Linked DNA regions of Homo sapiens: region 1 is linked to region 2. Evidence: fine-mapped expression QTL. A gene starts in region 2. The other region holds a variant in brackets. All regions are shown on one strand. Distances are between the middles of the regions.

Evidence for each region. PIP is the estimated chance that this variant, and not a neighbour inherited with it, causes the effect. A credible set is the group of variants that fine-mapping cannot tell apart.
Region 1: its variant is the best candidate, but not a certain one, in a credible set for the expression of ABCA8 in prefrontal cortex (ROSMAP, PIP 0.90).

What each region holds. Positions count from the first base shown.
Region 1 is chr17:68,822,139-68,831,992 of GRCh38, reverse strand. It overlaps LOC105371874 (a long non-coding RNA gene), which reads right to left and starts at 9,118. Exons shown (of 3, transcript XR_001752986.3): 1 at 9,004-9,118. The variant C/T (reference allele first, on the strand shown) is at 4,329.
Region 2 is chr17:68,950,268-68,960,121 of GRCh38, reverse strand. ABCA8 (ATP binding cassette subfamily A member 8) reads left to right here and starts at 4,730. Exons shown (of 40, transcript NM_001288985.2): 1 at 4,730-4,903.

The DNA of each region.
Region 1 (9,854 bases), 130 kb after region 2:
GTTGACCATTTGAGCAAAGACCTGAAGAAGAGGATGGGGATGGAATAAGCCATATAAATACGTTGGATAATAAGAATCCCGGTTGAAGGAATGGCCAATGGCAAGGTCTGGAGGGAGGAGCCCACCTGACGTGCCTGAGCAGGCCAGTGGAGTTGGAATGGAGTGAGTGAGCAGAACAGTCCAGAATGACTTTAGAAAAGTAGGGACCAACCACGTATGGGATTGTGGAAATTTTAAGGAGTTTGTCTTTTACTTTTTGAGAGACAGAGAAAAAAAATCGGTGCTGGAGGGTTCTTCTCTTCTCTGGTGTGTTTTTAAAGAATTCATTAGGCTGCGGTATCAGGAACAACCCATAAGAGATAGTATTGGAGACCAAATTTTGGAAATTGAAGGTAGAGCCAACAGCATTGGCTGGTAGCTAAAGAATGACTCCAAATTAACTTTCATGGGGAAGACTACGGAAGAAGAAAATTAGGGAGGGGGAATGTAACAGTCCGTTTTCACGCTGCTGATAAAGACATACCTGAGACTGGGTGATTTATAAATAAAAAGAAGTTAAGGGACTCACAGTTCTGTGTGGCAGAGGAAGCCTCAAAATCATGGCGGAAGGCCAAAGGCACGTCTTACACGGTGGCAGACAAGGGAGAATGAGAACCAAGCAAAAGCAGAAACCCCTTATAAAAACATAAGATCTCATGAGACTGATTCACTATCACAAGAACAGTATGGGGAAAATCGCCCCCATGATTCAATTATCCCTCACTGGGTCCTTCCAAAACACATGGGAATTATGGGGGCTACAATTCAAGATGAGAGTTGGGAGAGGATGGAGCCAAACCATATCAGGGAGCAGGTTAGAAGTTTGGTTTAGGACAAGTTAAGTTTAAGATGTCTGCTAGACATCTCACTAGGGACGTTATGGAGAGAGTTTGTTATATGAATTGAGTGCTCACCAAAAGATCCCACTATAGAAAAAAAAAATCTCTGGGTGCTGTCAACCTATTGGTGGTAGTTCAACCTATTGGTGGTAGTTAAGCCATGGAAATGGATGAGATCCCCAGGAGAAAGAATGTAGCTTTCTGAGGACTGGTTGGAGCATTCAGGGGTGAGGAAAAGCCTGCAAAAGAAATTTAAAAGGGATGATCAGGGAGGGAAGGAGGAAAACTGGGAGAGTCAGGCACCCTCAACAGGCAGTTATTAGAGCAGGCTATATCAAACGTATCCAAGAGGTAAACAATCATAAGGAAACAGACTCCTAAGCCCTCAATTTCCTATGCATGCTTTGCTAAAATCACTAGATTTGAGGATGTTTCAATGATGAACGTGCAGATTCTTGCTTCCCAATGCTTCTTTTGTAACAACTCTTCTCCCACCTAATAAACTGCAGTCACTCCTCACCCCCTTATGAATCTTACCATTAGCATGGCTCTGGGTATAAAAACATCTGGAATGACACACAGTGAGATTACTAAAATGACAGTGTCCCTGTTGAGAAGGTGAATGATGCTAACAATTAGAAAACCATCGAGTCAAATGGTTTCTAATTTTCTCTTTCAGCCAAATTATAAGATAAACTAGTTGAATTGCCAGCTGATGCATCAGTTAAAAGAATTTTTAGTAATAGAATGCTTTGTGACTTTTGCCAAATATCTTGGGAGAAACATAAATAATTTAGTAACAGTACAATAACATTCTATTCCTATTTACTTATTTGTGTAAGTTAGTTTTCTCGATATTTAGGTATATATAAATGAAAAAAAGGAACAGATATTGTTCTAAGAGTTATCTTATTCCAGCAATTAGCAATATTCATTCATAAATAAGTGAACTAAAAGAAAAATAAACTTCAATTCACCTCATTAAGATACACATTTCCAATAAAATTTAATTTTAATGTTTAATATTTACATATTAACATTTATATGATATGCATGTTTTTGAGAAATTGTGAATAATAATTATAATGATAACCCAATACTGCAGAACGTTGGATCACATAGTCTTTTGGTAAAAGAAAATTTAAAATTAAATTTGTATCTTACTTTTTTTAAATGGAAAGATATCTTGGTGATATCCTTTGGGGGCTCACATAGAAGTAACTTTTATGTTTTTTTGCAGAACTGAGGATTTGAAAAGAACCAACCAAAATCTCAACGGTACAGGAATGCTCCTCCCCAAGAATGCTGTTATCTGCAAAGACTTTCAGTGCTCTTTACTTTTCAATTACCTTGCCATAAGGATCTTATCACACCTCTCTCCACGTTCTCTTCCAGCCAAATTATAACAGAAACTAGGTGAATAGCCAGGTGATACATCAATTAAAATAATTTTTGATAATAGAATGCTTGATGACTTTTGTCAAATATCTTGGGAGACAAGCAAATACATCTATTTTTGCTCAAATAAGAGGATTGTTTAGATCTCCAATAATTTAGAGCACGTTATTGATATAGTGCATTGCCATACATACCCTGGGGTCACAAGATTTTCCAGAGTATATGTGAGCATAAGAAGCTTTAAAGAACTCAACTTCCAGATACACAAACTCCTTTTGACCACTTTCCTTAAAAAGATGCTTGAGAAGGCATTTGTGGACTTCCAGTTCTTCTTTTCCACTTCCGTTTTTGCATTTTTTCTGGTTTACAAAAGAAAGGCATTCCTGGTACTGATTCTGAATCTTACTGTGGAACATTACTCCGAAAAATAATTAAAAAAAAAAAAAAAAGCAAGCGCTTTTGATCATTCCTGAGTGTGTGTTTTCTAAAAACAAACACTTTGTAAGAAAGGGTAAAAGGAAATACCCAAAGCTATCCCTAAGTAAAAAGAACAAAACTGGAGGAATCTCATTACCTGACTTCAAATTATACTACAGAGCTATAATAACCAAACCAGCAGGGGACTGGCATAAAAACAGACACGTAACAATGGAACTGAATAGAGAACCCAGAAACAAATCCACACACCTACAGTGAACTCATTTCCCACGAAGTTGCCAAGAATGTACACTGGGGAAAAGACTGTCTCTTCAATAAATGGTACTGGGAAAACTGGATATCTGTATGCAAAGCAATGAGACCAGACCCCCATCTCTCACCATATACAAAAATCAAATCAAAATGGATTAAAGACTTAAGTCTAGAACCGCAAACTATAAAACTACTACAAGAAAATCTTGGGGAAATTCTCTAGGACATTGGCTGGGCAAAGATTTCTTGGCAACACCCCACAAGCACAGGCAACCAAAGCAAACATGGACAAATGGGATCATATCAAGTTAAAAAGCTTCTGCACAGCAAAGCAAACAATCAACAAAGTGAAAGAGAGCCCACAGAATGGGAGAAAATATTTGCAAACTACCCCTCCGACAAGATATTAATAGCCAGAATATATAAGGAGCTCAAACAACTCTATAGGAAAAAATCTAATAATCCCATCCAAAAAATGGGCAAAAGATTTGGATAGACATTTCTTGAAAGAAGACATACAAATGGCAAACAGGCATATGAAAAGATGCTCAACATCACTGATCATCAGAGAAATGCAAACCAGAGCTACGATGAGCTATCATCTCATTCCAGTTAAAATGACTTATATCCAAAAGACAAGCTTTGTACATTTTTGGTAGAAATGTAAATTAGTACAACTATGGAGAACAGTTTTGAGGTTCCTCAAAAAACTAAGAATTGAGCTACCATATAACCCAGCAATCCTACTGCTGGGTATATACCGAAAACAAAGGAAATCAGTATATTGAAGAGACATCTGCACACCTTATTTGTTGCAGCACTGTTTACAATAGCTAAGATTTGGAAGCAACTTAAATGTCTGTGAACAGAGGAATGGATAAAGAAAATGTGGTACATATACACAATGGAGTTCTATTCCGCCATTAAAAAAAAAAAGAAAGAAAGAAAGAATGAGATCCAGTCATATGTAACAACATAGATGGAACTGGAGATCATTATGTTAAGTGAAATGAGCCAGGCACAAAAACATAAACATTGCATGTTCTCACTTACTTGTGGGATCTAAAAATAAAAACAATTGAACTCATGGACATAGAGGGTAGAAAGGTGGTTACAGGCTGAGCGGGGTTGCTCAGGCCTGTAATCCCAGGACGTTGGGAGGCCGAGGCGGGCAGATCACGAGGTCAAGAACTCGAGACCATCCTGGCCAATATGGTAAAACCCCGTCTCTACTAAAAATACAAAAATTGGCCGGGCCCAGTGGCTCACGCCTGTAATCCCGGCACTTTGGGAGGCCGAGGCGGGCGGATCACGAGATCAGGAGATCGAGACCATCCTGGCTAACACGGTGAAACCCCGTCT[C/T]TACTAAAAAATACAGAAAATTAGCCGGGCGTGGTGGCAGGCGCCTGTAGTCCCAGCTACTCAGGAGGCTGAGGCAGGAGAATGGCGTGAACCCGGGAGGCGGAGATTGCAGTTAGCCAAGATTGCGCCTCTGCACTCTAGCCTGGCAGCAAAGCGAGACTTCGTCCAAAAAAAAAAAAGGTTGTTACCAGCCTGGGAAGAGTAGTGGAGGGATATAGGGGGAGATGGGGATAGTTAATGGGTACAAAAATAATAAAACAAAAGAATAAATCCTACTCTTTGATAGCATAATAGGGCGACTATAGTCAATGATAACTGAATTGCATATTTTAAAATAAAGAATGTAACTGGATTGTTTGTAACACAAAGGATAAATGCATGAGGGGATAGATACCCCATTCTCCATGATGTGCTTATTTCACATTGCATGCCTGTATCAAAATATCTCATGTACCCTGTATTAGTTCGTTTTTATGCTGCTGATAAAGACATACCCGAGACTGGGCAATTTACAAAAGAAACAGGTTTATTGGACTTACAGTTCCACATGGGGAGGCCTCACAATCATGGAGGAAGCCAAGGAGGAGCAAGTCACATCTTATGTGGATGGCAGCTGGCAAAGAGAGCTTGTGCAGAGAAACTCCCGTTTTTAAAACCATCAGATCTCGTGAGACCCATTCACCATCATGAGACCAGCACAGGAAAGCCCCGCCCCCGTGATTCAATCATCTCCCATCGGATCCCTCTCACAACACGTAGGAGTTATGGGAGATACAAGATGAGATTTGGGTGGGGACACAGAGACAAACTATATACCCCATAAATATATATACCTACTATGTACTCACAAAAACTTCAAAAGATAATTTAAAAAAAATAAGTAAAATTAAAGGCATTGTGATGAATGCCAAAAAAAAAAAAAAAAAAAGAGTAAAAGGGAAAAAGACAGCACCTTAGTATATCCAGGGAACGAATTCATGAGAAGGTTTTGTGCTATGGCTATACATCTGTCTGTCTTTCCATGCATTAGAATTTGGAGGTGAGAAGTTTGTGACAGAGATGTGTATTAAAATGTTTATCTTAATTAAAATGAAGCCAGTTTTTTTTTCTGACAGAAAAAATATGCTTCCCTGCATGGTTGATTTTTACTGTGAAGACTGGTTTTGCCAGTTAGATTATATGGCAGATATTTTTCCATACATTAGATATGTATAAATATGCAACTCTAAGATTCTGAGGGAAACACACACGCACAAACACACACACACACACACACACAGTGCTGAAATTCAGGTAGTATACGAATATACAAAGATTTAAACTTAAGAAGAAAATTTTCGATGTCAACTTAAAAATGTATGAAAGGTCGTGAAGGCAGCAGAATAATGATTATTGCAGGTGTGATCTACTGATGAATGCTGAAATTAGTGGCCAAAGACTTAAGAAGAAACAGTATATTTGTATAACATCCAAGAAACTCCCCATAGTCTGAATTAACTACAGTGGATTAAATTCCTTGAGACTCCTCCCTTCAAGAGAGGAAGTCTAATTCCTTCTTCCTGGGTGAGGGTAGGATTTAATAACTTGCTCCTAATGAATAGAGTGTGAACAGGAGAAAGTGCTGCCTTTATAGTGGAGAAATCTGGCAGAAACGCCTTAACCAAGTGACCAGGGTTAATATCACCAGTAATAAGTCATGCTAACATTGTATACACTCTTTACACACATTGTGTATGCTGGAATCAGAAACACTATTTTCCTCTATGGTAGAACTTTTCCCCAAACTCCATAACACCAGCCCAATCATAAGAAAATTTTGGATTAACCCAAATTGAGGGGTATCTTATAAAATACCTGAGTAGCATTCTTCAAAAGTGTCAAAGTCATGAAAAACAAGGAGACTGAGAAACTGTCACACATTGGAAGAGACTAAGGAGGCATGATGACTAAATGCAAAATTGTAGGTCCTAGATTAAATCCTGGGACAGAAAAAAGGACATCAGTGAAAAAAACTGGTGAAATCAGAATAAAGTGCAGTTTTGTACCAATGTGAATTTTTTAGTTTTGACAAATGGACGATGGTTATATAATATGTTCACGTGAGGGGAAGCTGGGGAAAATGTTCATCAGTATTCTCAGTACTATCTTGGCCACTCTTCTTTGAGTGCGAAATAATTTCAAATTTAGAAGTGTTTTAAAAAATACTATAACCCGTCGGGCACAGTGGCTCATGCTGGTAATCCCAGCACTTTGGGAGGCCAAGGTGGGAGGATCATGAGGTCAGGACATCGAGACCATTCTGGCCAACATGGTGAAACCCCGTCTCTACTAAAAATACAAAAATTAGCTGGGCATGGTGGCACATGCTTGTAATCCCAGCTACTCAGGAGGCCAAGGCAAGAGAATCACTTGAACCAGGGAGTCAGAGATTGCAGTGAGCCGAGATCACACCACTGCACTCCAGCCTGGCAACAGAGCAAGACTCCGTCTCAAAAAAAAAAAAATAAAATACTATGACCAATTAAATGACAGCAAAATGAATGTGTGAGAGGGCATATAGTTTTCCAAAATGTAATGAGTATGAAAGGAATAATAGTTGAACCTCCCTGTCCTGGAAACAAAAGTAAAGAGTCAGTGTTTCGTTATGTCAAATGCTAGTGATAGAGCAAGTGAGGTGATGAAAATGGATTAACTGATCCGCTGAAAATGGATGAATGGATTGAGCAATAATAGAAAGGTCATCAGTAACCTTAACAAGAGCAATGTTGATGGATTGCAGTGCGGAATCCTGGAAGTGAGATCAAAAGAGCATGGGAACAGAAGATAGGAAAACAATACAGACAGCTATTTCAATGATTCTTTTCTGTAAAGGGGCACAGAGAAAAGGCATTGGTGCTGGAAGGGATTTGCATGTTCAAGAAAGAGTTTTATTTAAAGTGAGAGAAATTACAGCATGTTTGACTGTATGATAATAAGAATGGTCTAGCCTGGCATGGTGGCTAACACCTGTAATCCCAGCACTTTGGGAGGCTGAGGCAGGCAGATCATGAGGTCAGGAGTTGACCAACATGGTGAAACCCCGTCTCTACTAAAAATACAAAAATTAGCCAGGCATGGTGGCACACGCCTATAATCCCAGATAGGAGGCTGAGGCAGGAGAATCACTTGAACCTGGGAGGCAGAGGTTGCAGTGAGCCGAGATCACACCACTGTACTCCAGCCTGGGCAACAGAGTGAGACCCCGTCTCAACAAAAAAAAACAACAACAAAAACAACAACAACAACAACAACAACAAAAAGAATGGTCTAGAAGAAAGAAGACTGGAATGATGAAGCAGAAGAGAAGGGAGGCTTACATAACATCTTGCGGTAATGAAAGGGGATGGAATCTGGTATAGGATCCAGATCCAGTAAGTGAGTAGATGTGTGGATGGGAGATGACAGAATTCTCTTCTGCTAGCTTTTTTTTTTCTCAGTGAAGTGAAAAAAGGAGAATAAGAAGGGGGAAAGTGCTATAAATTTGGAGGAAGAGGATAAGGAGAGTGAAAATATTAATACAATTGAAGGTGGTAGGATTTCTGGGCAGCACTAAGGTCCAGCTTGGGATTAGTGATTATGAATTTAAAGTGAGAATTTCAACATGTTCCATGATTCTCTAGAGTCATGTTCTGGTGCATAAAGCAGGTGTGCAGAAGGCAGAGTTAGAAGAAAGACAAGGATATCAAGGGTATATGCAAGGACTGATATAATGCTGAAACCATTTAAGCTGGGCAAGGAATGAAGTGATGACATGCAAATGGAGAGAAATCGTGAAACGTTAGTCACATAAATAGATTGTAGGTCAAGTAATTAATAGAAAGCAGGATATTATCAGGATAGGAGGCAGTGGTTAGAGGTTGGAATGAGGGAGGGATTGCAAGTATTGGTGCTGACCAAGTGTCCTGTCCAGGAGTGTGCTGGTAAACCTGCGTTCTCTTTCATTTCTAGCTGGAAGAAGGATCAGAGGCACATTACGTTCACTTAAAGTCTGTCCCCAGGGCTGCATTAATTGCCCTACCCTCTGTCATCCCATAGTACAAGGGAATGAGACCAGTTGGACATTCCACAGAACATCACATTAATCCACCAAATCAGCACCATCATGGTGATCCATACACACGAGCAAGAGGTAGCAAATAGATTGGAGGCTTTGGTAAGAAATATGCACCCCAAAGGGTGGGAGATAAACCCTGTAAAACTCAAGGATCACCATATTTTTTCAGGGACCTAGAGATCTGGATTTTACTGGGACTTGGTCTTCTCAGTATTTTTAAACATCATGTTTAAATCTTTATTTACTAAAAAGAAAGCCCAGTGCTTGGTAATTGTCTTCAAGATCTGGAAGCAGTATATTCCTCACTTAGGAATATGGCTGCAACTCATATGTCATTGCAGTTACACATTTGGAAATCAGGGAAATGACCTCCAGGTACCTACAGGGCCCCAGTGGACCCAGTTTAAGACAGACCTGAGTCAGAACTTCAGTTATTACCTGATCCTCACACATACACCTACTCTAACAGGAGCAGGGGGCATCATGGCTCTTGGGGTTTCCAAGTACCAGCATCAAATCAGGCTCTGTGTTGAAAAGCCCTCAAAAGATCTGGGTCTTCCCCTTTCCTTAATATGTGGTTACCTGAGTAATTTCTGGAGGTCCCTTTAAGGAAGGTCGGAGGGAGAATTACCGTACACACTGTGGTAGAGTCTTTCTTCATGGGGCTCTGGACTCTCTGTCTGTAGATGCTGTAACTGAGAAATGACTTCGGTCTGGAAACTGGGCAAGATCAGGAGACTTCCTGTTGGGTCAGCTTCTTGTTTTCTGCTTGTCTGTTCTTGATTTCTTAGGGTATGTATATTAATAATATTGTCACTGAGTTCCCATCTTTCCCATTCTTATGGACATCATGTTCTATTAGCCATCACCGTAAATCCCTGTGGATCAGGTTCCCCTGACTGTCATCCCAAGTTGCTTTGCATTATGCTAATTATGCCCTTCTAATTTCCATTGGTTAAGTGCTGTCTGTTGGCCTCTGCTATTCTAAAATCCTATCATCCACATTGCTCCTGGGAGGCACAATTACAGCATCTCCTACTGTCAACCCTGCCCATAAAGGACAGCACCACTGGGCTTCTCAACAATACTGACACCTTCCTCACCAGCTCATTCCTACTGCTTTGATAAAGTGTCCTCTAAGCCCTCCCAAGGAATGTACACATTAGTGGGTTTCCCAGTTTTATACAGTAAATACATTCTGGCATGCCAAATCCCCTGGGTCCTTGAAATATTTTCTCTATAGACTTCCATGGAAGTTATAGCATCTTCACTTTGTTTAATATGCATCATCACTTTTTTCATGCTTCCAGGAACCTTCCTAGCAGCTTACTAAACCTGTCACTCAGAGCCATTGCCATGGTGTTTAATCTTGTGTCACAGAAAAGGGATCTCATATTGATAATCTCTTCTTTCTCCAGCTTTTATTTGACTGT
Region 2 (9,854 bases):
CATCAATTTCTAAAGGCTTTTATTTGTTGATGTAATTAAATGGTTAAATATTACACAGAATCTAAGTGGGAATAATAATGTGTTAAAATACATTTATGTCTATGTGTATTCAATGATTAGCTGCCAGTTATAAGTGAGAATATGCAGTATTTGGTTTTCTGTTTTTGTGTTAGTTCACTTAGGATAATGGCCTCCAGCTGCATCCATGTTGCTGCAAAGGACATGATTTCATTCTTTTTTATGACTGTGTAGTATTCCATGGTGTATATATACCAAGTTTTCTTCATCCAAACCACTGTTGATGGGCACCTAGGTTGATTCCAAGTCTTTGCCATTATGAATGGCACTGCCATGAACATACAAGTGCACGTGTCATTTTTGTAAAATGATTAATTTTCCTTTGGGTATATACCTAGTAAAGACATCGCTGGGTTGAATGATTATTCTGTTATTCTTTTTTTAAGTTATTTAAGAAATCTCCAAACTGCTTTTCACAGCGGCTGCACTAATTTACATTCCCACCAACAGTGTATAAGCACTCCCTTTTCTCTGCAGCCTAGCCAGCATCTATTATTTACTGGCTTTTTAAAAATGGCCATTTTGACTGGTGTGAGATGGTATCTGTATTAGTCTGCTCTCATGCTGCTAATAAAGACATACCTGAGACTGGGTAATTTATAAAGGAAAGAGGTTTAATTGACTCACAGTTCCACATGGCTGGGGAAGCCTCACAATCATGGCAGAAGACAAATGAGGAGCAAAGTCACATCTTACATGGTGGCAAGCAAGACAGCATGTGCAGGGGAACTCCCCTTTATAAAACTATCAGATCTTGTAAGACTTACTCACTATCATGAGAAGAGCACGGAAAAGACCCACTCCTCATGATTCAGTTGCCTCCCACTGGGTCCCTCCCATGACACGTGGAAATTATGGGAGCTACAATTCAAGATGAAATTTGGGTGGGGACAAAATCAAACCATATCATTCTGCCCCTGGCCCCTTCTAAATATCATATCCTTATATTTCAAAACCAGTCATGCCTTCTCAACAGTAACCTAAAGTCTTTATATATAATATACATATAAAATTTAATATATATTATATAATTATATAATATATATATGAGTCAGTATGTATTTATGAGTCAGTATACATAATATATATTATTATATTATTATTATTATATTATATTATATTATATTATTATTATATAATAATAATATATAATATTATATTATTATATTATATTATATTATTATATTATATTATATTATAAAATATATATATAATATAATATATATATAATATAATATATATTTTAATATTATATATTATATATAATATAATATATATTTTAATATTTTAATATTATATATATTAAATATTATATATATTTTATATACTATATTATATTATATAATTATATAATATATAAATATATATAATATATAATATATATAATATATAATTATATAATATATAAATAATATATATAATATATAATTATATATTATATATAATTATATATTATATATTTTATATATATATTATATATTATATATAATTATATTATATATTATATATTATATATAATTATATATATATTATATATTATATATAATTATATTATATATTATATATATTATATATATAATTATATTATATATTATATATTTATATAATATAATTATATATATATATAATATATATAACCAGCCATTGAATGTGTTGCCATTAGAATCTAAAGAGACATCACAGATGCTGACCTTTCTTCTTACTGGTTGAGGCTGCAAGATACAGTAATTTTTCTTTCACTTTGAAGGAGATAGGCAAAGCACCCCTAGCCACTGGATCCATAAAACCTTTGCCGAAGTGAAAACCTCCAGAATCTTCACAGGGTTTATCTCCCACTTTCTAAAACATGTGTACTACCAAAACCTCCAGCATGCTAGTCACATCTTGCTCATCTTGTCTGATCAGCATGATGCCATCAATGTGTCAATATGATATTCTGTGGATGTCTACATGGTCCAGACCTCTTAAGACTATATTATAAAAAAAGCTAGGGGGTCAATAGAGCACTGAGGGAAAACTGTAAAGAAATAATATTACCTAATCTATCTGATTGTGCACTGTTTTTGATGCTCTTTTCTAATCAGAATAGAGAAGAATGCATCTGACTAATCGCTGGCTAAAAATCATGTATCTGCTCTAGGAATAGATACCATGTCTGACAAAGCAACTCTAATTAGGACCACTAGTTGTTTGAGCTTGAGATAGTCTAAGCATTCTCTAGAATCTTTCTGGCTTCTGCAAGGATCAGGCTGGCAAATTAAATTAAGGTGTGCTAGGCACCACTACCTTTCATCCTTATGTCACTATTTGTGGCATTGGTCTCTGCATTTCTTCTCCCCATGTGGAATACTGTTCTTGATTAAGTGTCATGGCTGGGGATAAAGTTGGGAGAATTGTCAAAGGTGCCCACTTTCCCTTCTGCATTATGATAGTTTTTACCCTACAGGCCAAGGACTCAGCATGGAAGTTATTCTAACTACTAGATATGTCAATTCTAACAGCACATTTGGTGACAGCAAAATCACCACTGGGTATGTCCATAAGTCCAGTGAGACGAGGCAGAGCTGCTTGTTAACCGGAACTCCATTTACGACCTTGGCTCTATATTCTCAATCTAGCTGTAGGGCCTTAGTGTGGGTTGCAGTTATCAATGTCCACTCTGACTTTATGCCCAACAACCCTTGACATGTCTGGGGATTTTTCTTTCTTCAGTGTATAATCACCCAAATAATGGCTTTAGGTCCCTTTGAGGGAGGACTAGGAAGTATAATCACCACAGTATATACTTGTCAAGATGTTGCAAGATCTTTTCTTCTAGGGGTCTGACTAGTTTTTTAATCAATATGTTCTGTATCTGAAAAGTAGCTTAGGACTAGGAGCTGAGCAAGAGATCATGACTTTTTATTGGGGTGATGGAGACCATGTTGAGCCTCTTACTCCTCTATTTCTTCCCCTTCTGGTTATATAGTTACTGAGCAGCACCCTTGTTGACCTCCTTCCTATTTTGTCTGTATATCATAGTAAGGTTTATATATTTCACTTAAAATGAAGAAATATTAATTCTGGGTAAAGCATGTCAAGTTAAGTATGTCTTTTGTAATCCTGAGAGTGACCACTAAAATAACTATACAAATAGATACAGTTAAGAAACATAATAGATACGTTGAAATGCAATACCAAAAAATAATTTCAAATAACCAACAAGAAAGCAGAAAATGGGAAATAGGAGAATTAAAACCAGAGAGAAAAGAAGCAAATAACAAAATGGCAGATCTGATTTTAAAAATCAATAGCTACATAAAATGAAAATAATTTAAACACACCCATTAAAAGATGTGCATTGTCAAATTGGATTTTAAAAACCAAACTCATGACTCTATTATATGCCATCTACAAGAAACTCACTTGAAATACAATTTAGAGCTGGGTATAGTGGCATGTATCTGTAGTTTCAGCTACTCAGGAGTCTGAGATGGGAAGATCACTTGAACCCAGGAGTTCAAGTCCAGCCTTGGCAACATAGCAAGACCATCATCTTAAAAAAATAATAACAAACACAGACGCACACACACACATACACACACACGCATACACATATAATATGAATGTGATGTTTGGCAGGGCCAACAGAATTGAGATCATAACTGCCACTCTGAAAGCATATAGTGTGTGTGTGTGTGTGTGTGTGTGTAGATAAAAATAAACGGATGAAAACAAAATACCACGAAAACAATAATCACAGGAAAGTAAGAATGGCTATATTATTAATATGAAACAAAGTAGACTTTAGAACACAAAAGTTACTAGAGATAAAGATTAACATTACATAATGATAAAAGGGTCAATTCACCAAGAAGACATAACAATTCCAAATGTTGCAAAATACATCAGGCAAAACATGATAGTTTTAAAGGGAGAAATTTGAAAGTCCCTAAGTTTTGTTAAAATCTTCAACATTCCTCTCTTAGTAATCAACAGAACTAGGAGACAGAAAATTAGGAAAAATATAGAAAAAACTGAACAATATCATCAACCAACTAAATGTAATAGATATTATATAATATTCCACTCAACACCAAAAAACTATACAACTTTTCAAGTGCCTATGGAATATCTGCCAAGATAGATCATATCCTGGGTCATCAAATAAGCCTTAACAAATTTGACATACAAAATATTTTTTCTGAGTATAATTGAACTTCTGATTTAAAATTAAATCAATAACCAAAAGATAAGAAAATCTTCAGACACTTGGAAATTAAGCACATTTCTGATTAATCCGTGGGTCAAATAAATTGGAAAATAGTCTGAACTGAGTGAAAATGAAGCTGGGAAGCAGAGGAATGAAAATTTTGATTATCTAGGTAAAGCTGTCAATTAAGCAGACTAGAGCTCTGGGTAGAGAGAAGAGCTTTTCTCTGATTAAGCTGTTTACTTTCTCATGGCTTAAAGACAGCACTTTAAATTTTGGTATTAGCCACAATAATCTTGGACGTAAAAGAGAAATTGCTCCCTATAATATGATATAGCCAGGCAACCCAGTATAAATGCCACTGCTCTGCAGGAACTGGCCGAATATCAATGAGAAGACAAACAGTCCAAGCATGATGACGTGAATGTGATGTTTGGCAGGGCCAACAGAATTGAGATCATAACCTCCACTCTGAAAGCAGTCTTCACAGAAACTTTTCACAGAAGTCAAATAGTTAAAGCAAATTCTAGATACATGGTAGAGACCAGGAGAAAATATGAATAACTTTCTTCTAAACAAGGAGCTCAGTGGATAAACCATACCTCTAGATTCCTTGCTTCCATTTTCCCAGAAGTAAGTTCACTGTATTTTTTCTGTTTTGTTTTGTATTTTGCTTTTGTGTGTGAGTTTGTTTCAGAGGTTTTGTCTTTTCTTATTCCTATCACAAAATTATAAATAAACCTTTATAAACTGAATGACAATCATCTATGCAGAAATTATTTTGAAAAATATTGGGCTACTTTAAAGATTTTATATCTGGTAATTAATATTAGATAAATAAAAACATTGAGTTAGAATGTTTTTTAAAAAATTATGCAAACATTATGTTGTTTTAAACATAACTGAGTGTAGAAATAAGTTTAAATTGGCTAAAAATTTTTTGTGAAGAGCTTAGAGTTTTAAGAATTGGGTTGGAAGACTGAGTTGTTTTTGAAGTTAAAGTTATCTACTTTGATTGCACAATAATGTAGGGCATTTTGGATAAGTGTTCTTCTGACTTTAAGACTGTTTACCAAGAGCACTTACAGAAATATTTTTATTGTTCCTATCGCTCACTCTTAGTCTATAAGAATTTTAGAAATGTAAGATTCTTTCTAGGATCTTTTACTCGTTGGATACAGTGAGTTGAATCAGAATGTGAAATATGTAGCTTCTCTTTACCACAATGTTATTTAAAATGTACATTGGTAAAAAGAATTTTCATACTCCTATAGTGAATACATGTTGTTCTGAATTTTACAACAGTATAAGAGGATAAAAATGAGTCATTACAATTTGAGACTATTTGCCATATGTATAATAAAGTATTCATGTTTTTGCTAGCCTTTACATAAACTGCAGAACATACAAAAATTGGAAAGAAACAAAGTTGGCAATAATACTTTACGATGGAAGATATAAGGGATTGGAGTCAGACTGGAGTTTGCATGCTACCTAAGACTGTAGCTGATTCCATAGTGAGGAGATCATCCTCTTGGCCAATGTCTATTAACTTCGCCAGTGAATTATGCATTTCTGTAGAGAAGCTGTGATATATTTGGGCTTGTGCATGAGGTGGAGTGTAGGGAAACATCACACTCTGGGGACTGTTGTGGGGTGGGGGGAGGGGGGAGGGATAGCATTGGGAGATATACCTAATGCTAGATGACGAGTTAGTGGGTGCAGCGCACCAGCGTGGCACATGTATACATATGTAACTAACCTGCACAATGTGTACATGTACCCTAAAACTTAAAGTATAATAATAAAACGAAAAAAAAAAAAGAAATTCCTCCTGTACAGAGCTTGCATTGGCGGCAGCTGCTTTAAGAACCCAGAAACTTTTGCCCTCTCTGTAGGCTAGCTCACTGTGAAAATATCCCATGGATTTTACCTAAAATTGCTTACAGAGAGCGGCATTATACTTCTATAGATAATTGCATCAGTAACCAGAGAGGAGAAGTACAGCAGCAGACTACCCTCTACCCCCGGTAGGAGTAGTAGCACATCACAGTTTCAGCAAGTTCAATCTTGAGCAAAGAACATGATGTGATTGTTTGTGGGTATGTCTGTATACGGAGTGTGATTTTAGGTAAGGAGAGCCTTGCACAGCTCTCTTAAAAGTATCCATGCTGAATTTTCTGCACCTTAACCTAGGCTGCTTTACTCTTGGAACTGTCTTTCCCTCTTCTCCTTCCATGGGCTCTCTGACCTCTTTACTTGGTCTGCTTCCACTTAGGCCTGCCCCTCAGCCTCATTGCATGGCCATGTGTAGGTTCTTCTTCTAGCAGTGTTCTCTGAGACTGCTGTGGCTAATGTGCCTTCTGTTGCAACTGACCCCTGGACACCTTACTTGAGATTTGGCTCTAGAAAGTAGCACCACCCTGTGTGTGATCCTGTCCCATAAATGAGATGATGGCTTCAGTTGGGGCTCATTCACTTCTCATCACTATGGAGGAGTTCATAGAAACTGCATGGCCAACATGGCATGCATACGGAGGGAGATCACTTGCTTCAGAAGTCAGGACTTATGAGCCAAATGATGGTCTTCAGGGTGGAGCTGCTGGCTTTGTGCTCAAAAGTCTGGACCCATTCTTCCAAGTCATGTCCTTCACATGCTTCCCAGAAAACTGATGATGGTACCTTCCAGAATCTCTTTACTTTCTATAATTCAGCTTAGGTAGCCTGTTTTCTCCCACGGCAAAGACCATTTGAAAGCACTCTAGTCCTACAGTTTTCAGGAGTGGCTTAGCAAATCCTATTTGTGTAGCAGTGGTTGATTGAAGTTCTGGAAAGATGTGGTGCTCTTATTATGCACTGAATTATCTTCTTCTGGGAAGTATTTTATGTGCCTGCTGCAATAAACTGTATGTATAAATTCCCCTACAAAATCACCCCCCATATACAGACATACCCAGAAACAATCACATCATGTTCTTTGCTCAAGATTGAACATGCTGAAACTGTGATGTGCTACTACTCCTACCAGGGGGTAGAGGGTAGTCTACTGCTGTACTTCTCCTCTCTGGTTACTGATGCAGTTATCTATAGAAGTATAATGCCACTCTCTGTAAGCAATTTTAGGTAAAATCCATGGGATATTTTCACAGTGAGCTAGCCTACAGAGAGGACAAAAGTTTCTGGGTTCTTAAAGCAGCTGCCGCCAATGCAAGCCCTGTACAGGAGGAATTTCTACACTCCACCTCCTGCACAAGCCCAAGTATATCAAAGCCTCGCTACAGAAATGCATAATTCATTGGCAAAGTTAATAGACATTTGATGGTAAAAAATGAATCTACTTTGTATGTTCTTTAAATTGAAAATTGAATCACATTTCTACACAACAACAGGCGGATCACAAGGTCAGGAGATCGAGACCATCCGAGCTAACAAGGTGAAACCCCATCTCTACTAAAAACACAAAAAATTAGCTGGGCGTGGTGGCGGGCGCTTGTAATCCCAGCTACTCGGGAGGCTGAGGCAGGAGAATGGCATGAACCCAGGAGGCGGAGCTTGCAGTGAGCCGAGATCGCACCACTGCACTCCAGCCTGGGCGACAGAGCGAGACTCCATCTCAAAAATAAATAAATAAATAAATAACCAGGATAATTAGATTGGAATTCAGCAGAGTGTTAAAATAACTAGAAGGCATTTGTTTGTAAAAAGAGAACAGAGATAATAAATACTTTTGAGTTTTCATAAAATAAGTTATAGTTTCTTAGAAAAGTATTTAAGAGTAACCATAAAAGACATATAACCACCTTTTACATCTTTGGGACAGGAGAAGAAGTGAAGAAGGAGAGGAAAACATTTTCAATTCAATAGAAGGTAAAGATGTAGACAAAACTAGAAGCAAAAGAAAAGTAGGTTTAACGTGAGAATAAGATAGAATGAGAGATCATCCAAAACAAAAATTCATACATGGTTTAATGCATCTCTTAAAATATAGTTATCTATCAGTTTAGATTTCTAAACATAATGCATTGATAGTTTTTTATATAGTAACCAAATATTTAAAAATGCAGCAAAAGGTTAACAACAAAGAGATAGAAACAGATACATTAGGCAAATATTAACCTACAGAAACCTAGTGTCTCCATATTATCAGAAATAGAAGCAACCTATTACTGAAACATAAAAAAGCAATGTTTTATGCACCTAGCTACCTATGCTTTAAATGCACTTGCTGAAAACTAACAGAGATATAATAAGAAATTGCCAAACCTATTATTAGAGTGGAAATTTTTAATTGAACTCTATTATGAAATGATTGATCTAGGAAATATAACATTAGAAAGGATGCTGAAGATTTGAAGAACACAATGAAAAAGATTGAATAGATACGTACAAAACACTTCACCTAAATGGTGAGTTACAGGTATGTTAGGTGCACGTGGAACACTTTCAAATATTAAAATATGCTGCACCAGCGAGGAAGTCTTAAGGAATTTTAAAGAAGCAGTATCTTACTGAGAAGTCATTTCTTTGGTCACAATATAATTGTTAGAAATCAAAAATAAAAAGTCACTAAAAACAAAGAAACTTCAATATAGTGAATGCTAAAGAGGTAATCCTAAGTAACATATGTATGGTCTATTGCCACATTTATGTTACATAGCAAAAAGGAAATAAACCCAAATAACAACACACAGCAATAAGCATTTGTAGTGTGGTGTCTGCAGTGGTTCCTAAGAAACTGCTGATCTTGGATAGGCTTGATGGTATCTCTGGGAGGGGACTGGCTAGCACTCTCAACTGGATGACTGAGAGGACTCAGCTTGGTTTCATTCCGCAGTAGGCTAGGCCAGGTCTGCTCTCACAGCAATGGAAGAAACAAAAAAACAAGCAGATACACTCAAGGTCTCGGGAGGCTGAGGTTCAGAACTGGTGCGACATCACACCTCCCTTCTTCTCTTGGCCCAAGTACTAGCCTGCCTTGATGACAAAAACTCCAAAATTACCAGACAAAGGGTGGACACAGACAGATGGATAATTGGGTCACTGATGCAATCAATCACTCAACTCCAGAATCCATTTTCTCAGCCACTCTGCTAACATTAGTTCGTTATTTCAGCCAAGAAGCCAAAGGAAAAAGTAGCAAAACCAACCCCCAAAAAGAGTAGAAATAAAACCGTGAAAAGTAAGAGGATAAATTAATAAATTAGAAAACATAGTAAGCAATGAAAATGATGAAACAGTAAACTGCTGTTTTGTTTAAAAGGCCATTAATACATTCAAAATTCTAGCAAGACTAATGAATAAAAATAAAAAGAAGCTTAAAAATAGAAGAAAACATACATCCATTTATAATAGGTTTTCAAAAGTATTTTTAGTTATAGATATTTTAAATTCATGCTAATAAATCTAAATATAGTTTGAAGCCAGGTAGCAGGATGCCTCCAGCTTTGTTCTTTTTGCTTAGGATTGTTTTGGCTACGCGGGCTCTTTTTTGGTTCCACATAAAATTTAAAGTAGTTTTTTTCTATTCTGCAAAGAAAGTCAATGGTAGCTTGATGGGAATAGCATTGAATTTATAAATTACTTC